2 separate regions of the Homo sapiens genome follow, and region 1 is linked to region 2. Evidence: fine-mapped expression QTL. A gene starts in region 2. The other region holds a variant in brackets. All regions are shown on one strand. Distances are between the middles of the regions.

Region 1 (3,020 bases), 26 kb before region 2:
CACATGTCAAGGGAGGGACCTGTGATCCCCATGTGTCAAGGAAGGGAGGTGACTGGACCATGGGGGCAGCTTCCCCCATGTTGTTCTGGTGACGGTGAGTGAGTTCTCACAAGATCTGTTTAGGAGTTCCTCCTTCCTCCTCCTCTCTCTCCTGCCGCCATGTAAAACGTGCCTGATTCCCCTTCCACCATGACTGTAAGTTTCCCAAGGCCTCCCCAGCCATGCAGAACTGTGAGTGAATTAAACCTCTTTCCATTATAAATTACCCAGTCATGGGTAGTATCTTTACAGCAGTATGAAACAGACTAATATACTCTTAAGTGCTCACATTTAATCTTATAATTACTCTCATTTTACACAAGATAATACAGGCAAAGAGAGGCTAACCAACTTGTCCAAGATTAAATAGCCAGTAGGTGGCAGAGCCTCAGAATGGAAATCTGAAGCCCACCTAGTTTTAGAATGTATGTTTTTAGTCAAAGCTCCATACCTCACAACACAGATCCTCCTCACTTGGGCTCAATCCAGTCTTTTTCACTAGCTATCCACCCCAAACATCACCATTTTCACACAGAGAACTACCTACTCAGCCTTTGCATGTGCAGTGCCTTCCACCTGGAGCACCTATCTCAAGTGCTGCTGTCATGCATCCAGTGCCTCCTCTCCTCTCTGAAGTCTGTGCTGAGGTGGAGGTGATGGGAACCAGGGCCTCCACGGTTCTTGTGCAATCTGCCCTTACTCTGCTCTTTCCACCAGCATTCATGCCTGTAAACACTGCCCATTTTCGCCTGAGGACAGGAACAAAGAATTTTTATGCCTCCAGCAAAACCAAAGGTATCTTGTACTCTGCTGGTGAACAACGTAGACTGCAAACCTATGGACCATAAGTCTGAGTCAGTCGAGCCATTTTGTTTGGTCATTATAGCATTTTCAAACACCAACAACATAATGGGAATGCCTTCCCCAGGGCACCCGATCCTGGTGTGGCATACTGCTGCTTGGTATTTTAGTGATGGGCAGCTCCAGGCTTGTAAGCTGTCCTGACCTAGTCATTAACTAACTCACTCATTACTCCCAATTACTTCTCTTCCCATCATTCTTTCACATATAGTAAATCTTAGCTGTAAACAATACCAAGAGAAATAAAAGGGCATAACAGATATATCATTTCATTTCTACAGATTGAAAAACTCCCTATATAATGTCAAAGGTGGAAATATCCCTAAAATTGAAACAACTTCGAATCACAGCAAAACTAAAATTTAAGAACTTCTAGAACAAAAGTCCCTTATCAGTGCTCACACTTCTAAGCAGGAAGGGGGCCCTAGCAGAGTTGGCCCAGCCTGGCACTGGGTCACTGCTGGCAGTCTCAACCCCAGTGACATCTGAGAAAAGGTCGGGGACCTTTGTTCAGGCAAGTTTACCTTTAAATTTCAACAGCAAAACCAGACATTTAGCGTTTGACTTATTTCTGTTTCACTTACAACACTGCTCAAGTTCAGGGAATAAGCACCAAAAATAGAAATGGAAAGGGACGCCTACTGAACATACCGTGCTTGACCACGACAAAACAAAGGGTACCACTCTTATTCCAAAGCTTTAGCTCTCTAGATTAGAGGAAGAGGACCAGTGCTTGTATTTACACATGCTGTGTAAAACCAAAGCAGCACTTAGCACACTATAAAGTAAGAACCACATTAATATTCATAAACTTTGGCAAGATGAGACAGGGGTCTGTTTTTTCCTTTTTTTTTTTTTTTGAGACGGAGTCTCGCTCTGTTGTCCAGGCTGGAGTGCAGTGGCGCGATCTCGGCTCACTGCAAGCTCCGCCTCCCGGGCTCATGCCA[C/T]TCTCCTGCCTCAGCCTCCCGAGTAGCTGGGACTATAGGCGCCCACCACCATACCGGCTAATTTTTTGTATTTTTAGTAGAGAAGGGGTTTCACCATGTTAGCCAGGATGGTCTCGATCTCCTGACCTCGTGATCTTCCTGCCTCAGCCTCCCAAAGTGCTGGGATTACAGGCTTGAGCCACCATGTCTAGCCTTTTTTTTTTTTTTTTTTTTTTTTTGAGCTAGGATCTCGCTCTGTCACCCTGGCTGGGGTGCAGTGGTACGATCACGGCTCACTGCAACCTCAAATTTCTGGACTCAAGTAATCCTCCTGTCTAAGCCTCCTCATGTAGCTGGAATTACAGGCACATGCCACCATGCCCAGCTAATCGTTTTTTTCTTTTTAGAGACAGGATCTCACTATGTTGTCCAGGCTGGTCTCAAGCTCCTGTGCTCAAGCAATCCTCCCTCCTTGGCCTTCCAAAGTGTTGGGATTACAAGTGGAAGCCACTGTGTCCAGCCTAAGATTATTCTATTATGCTTACATATATAATCTTTATCTTGAGTCTTAATCTGGCATGAGGAATAAGCATCTTTACTTGTGAAAAAGAAATTTTTTTATTAAGTCAAAAGCCAGGAGTAGAAATATTTACATCTTAATAGGATTCAAAATAGAAAGCTAAACAACTATTAAATTAAAATACTCTACACCTACTTCTGGAATCTAAAAGAACATTTTTAAAAAGATACTCTACACCAACCATTTTCCACAAATAACAACTGTAGCTGAGTTACTAAATACTTGTATGCAAATTAAATTTTTGCTTTCTTAATCACATTTGAAAAGTAAAAGGGACCTAGCTGGAGGGAGAATTATTTTGTAAACAATGTGTTTTTTGTTTTTCAATGAAAACAACCTACATTTCCCAGGTATACTGGGATTTCTTAAAGGGATCACTTGCACAAAGCCAAAATCTACACAGAAAACAAATCGCCTTCTCTCTTACTCTGGTCTCTTTGCTGCACAGACGTACTAGACTTCACTCCAAGCTCACTTCGGCATAGAAATGTAGGCCATACAAGAAAGAAAGGAAATAATTTTTTTAACTTAATCCCAAATGTGATAGTAGAAAATAATTTTTAACTGTAAAAGGGAACAGATTAAATGTCATTGAGTAATACTTACTGCTGGTT
Region 2 (2,500 bases):
AAAGCAGGGAAGACAAATACCACCCCAAATAGTGGGAACTACAATTAGGTCTTCAGAAAGGGATTCCCTGAGAAGGTGACGTCTGAGCAAAGACCTGGAAGAAGGTGAGTTAGTGTGCCAAGGGAAGAACACTTCAAGCAAAGGGAACAAAAGCAGGTGGAAAGGTCTTGAACTGAACTTATTCTAGAGTAGCAGAGGAACAGCAAGGAAGCTTGCGAAGATGGAATGGGCAAGGAAAAGGTAGTAAATGAGATCAGGGCAGGAAAAAAAAGTGTAAAGCCTTGTAGCTGTTGCAGAGGCTTTGACTTTTATTCTGGGTGAGACAGGGAGTCTTTGGGAGGTATTAAGTCTCAGAGAAGTGCATCAGTGACTTTTTAAAGGAGGTTTAAGAACACTAAAAATAAGGTGTCTGAAAAAAGCTAAATTAAGCCAAAAATATTTCTAAGAATTTAAAATGAAGAATTTGAAAACCAACGAATGGGCCATACTCGACCTCCCTAGCTGCCCAAAGGATGCTGACGACACGAACCAGCTGTGACAGACGAACATTCAGAGGCAAGCAGATTTCCGTAATGTTTACAGTCCTTGCCAGTAGGAAAAGCCGTGACTTTTCAACAAAATCACTTGGCCAGTCGGATGCACCTCGAAATCCCTCCATTTGACAGAGCACGTGTTAACTTCTAAGAAAGTAGGTGGGGCCCGGGATGTCACCTCATCTTAAAACATGCGGAAACCAAAAAGAGAAAAGGCTCTCCCGTCAAGTCAGCGGAGCTGCCCAGGAGAGCGGAGGCTTTCCGGAATCCCGGCTCCACCACGAACTTCAAGGCGCCAGCGTCCCACCGCGAGTCCTGACACGAGGGCTGCCTTCAACCGGCAAGCCCATCTCCCGCTGGTTACCAGGGGACTCCACCCCGGACGACAAATCACAGTCAGAACCAACGTGTCTCTCCCACCCTCGGACTGCGGCTCCTTCCCACCGGCGGGCCTGGGGGTGGGCCCAGACCCAGCCTGGGGGTGGGGGGTTGGGGAGAAGGCGGGTCCCAGCGGAAACTCCCGGCCGCGCCTTCCCGAGCCATGCGCTCGGGCCGGGACCCAGCCGCCTTCGCCCCGGGGAAGGGAGAGGGCGTGTTACCACGGCAATGCCTGGAGGGCCGAGGGGCGCACTCGCTGAGGGGCTTCGAAGGGGCCGGGGGAGGGAGGGGGCGCCCGCAGGGAGGGGCTGACACAGGGCTGACTCCGATTTAGGAATATCCTACCACTTCTCCATCAACAAATCTCCCATCACTGCCGTCCCACGGCCTCGCTCGCGCCCACAGACCCACTCACAATTCCTTGATCAGCACCATCTTCCCGGAACCCCCTCACAGCTGCCGCCGATACCACCGCCGCCGCCGCCGCTACCGCCTCTCACAGCGCCTGCGCGGCCCCGCCTCCCTGCCCCCCCGAGCCACCATCGCGCCTGCGTGCTTACACCCTTCCGCCGCGACCAGTCGCGTCAGCGCGCGAGGGGGCCTAGCTCCGCCCAGTTTCGTGCCCCACCCCGGGCACACGAGGCCTCCACTGCGGTTGCGCAGCCTGCCGAAGAGCGTGCGGCTTCTACTGCGGCTGCGCAAGCTCGACGCGCGCACTCTTGTCTGCTTACGAGGGCTCCTCCCTTCAGCTTTGGTCCCTCGGGGCGTCTGGGCAGCCTACGCTTTCCGGTGAGTTTTCCAGTTGGTTCTTTGGAAGCCGTTTTGCGGTGACTGGTTTTCTGCTCTCTCTCACTGCTCCGAGTCAGGGCCCACCTCCTTGACCGACACCTCACCTCCATAGTCCACATAAAAGACTCCTGACAGGTTCTGGAGGCAGCCGACGCCAGCTTCTGTTCCCCTCCCCAGCCCTTGGCAGCTCAGGTTCCGCGGGAGGACGTTCACCTGCTTCGCGGTCTCGTGGAGGTCCACCGCGGCGGAGAATCCTAAACCTCACCTGTGACTCGGCAGGATGAGCGGCCAGCACTCCCGACGGAGGCCCTCTGGGAGAAAAGAGGCCCTTGGCCTCGAGACCCAGGAAAGCGGGCTGTTCAGGAGTTGGTTCGCGCAGTTACACCGAAAGCGCCGTGGGCCTCAAAGCCGCAGCCCGGAGGTCGCTGGCTTGCTCTGTGTCAGACACGGTTCTAGGCAGTGGGGATGCATCTAGAAGCAGACACAGTCCCTGTTCTCAAGAAGCTCACAGTCTAGAGGAGACAACTCACTTGGAAAGAAAGCAGGGAGAATTTGGGGTGGTGGGGAAGTGCTATGCTATGAATACAGTGGAGTACTGGGAGAAGCAGAGGACTCAAGACAAGGGCTGTCTTAGGAGGCGGTGTTTGAGCCTAGCCTGTTAGGATGTGAGAGGGGCATTCCAGTTGGAGGGAAATATGACCCGAGGATGGAGTAAGCCTAGGGTGTTCAAGGATCAGCTAGAGGGCAGATGTGGCCAGAACATCCTAAGTGAGGGTGGGAAATGAGCTGGGACCAACTGG

Direction of the effects. Positions count from the first base shown, and alleles are read on the strand shown. Sizes are in standard deviations (SD) of each study's normalised expression.
In carriers of allele T in region 1, the expression in tibial nerve of the gene that starts at base 1,411 in region 2 tends to be lower than with C alone (small effect, 0.26 SD a copy in GTEx).

Evidence for each region. PIP is the estimated chance that this variant, and not a neighbour inherited with it, causes the effect. A credible set is the group of variants that fine-mapping cannot tell apart.
Region 1: its variant is the best candidate, but not a certain one, in a credible set for the expression of PITPNB in tibial nerve (GTEx, PIP 0.71).

The regions. Positions count from the first base shown.
Region 1 is chr22:27,891,543-27,894,562 of GRCh38, forward strand. It overlaps PITPNB (phosphatidylinositol transfer protein beta), which reads right to left. Exons shown (of 12, transcript NM_012399.5): 7 at 3,013-3,020. Among named protein-coding and RNA genes, the nearest start is that of PITPNB, 26 kb to the right of the region's middle. The variant C/T (reference allele first, on the strand shown) is at 1,848.
Region 2 is chr22:27,917,846-27,920,345 of GRCh38, forward strand. It overlaps PITPNB (phosphatidylinositol transfer protein beta), which reads right to left and starts at 1,411. Exons shown (of 12, transcript NM_012399.5): 1 at 1,327-1,411. The coding sequence starts at 1,346. TTC28-AS1 (TTC28 antisense RNA 1) reads left to right here and starts at 1,531. Exons shown (of 5, transcript NR_026963.1): 1 at 1,531-1,700. RefSeq lists enhancers at 611-1,596, 1,597-2,500, 1,752-1,931 and silencers at 862-1,181, 1,372-1,441.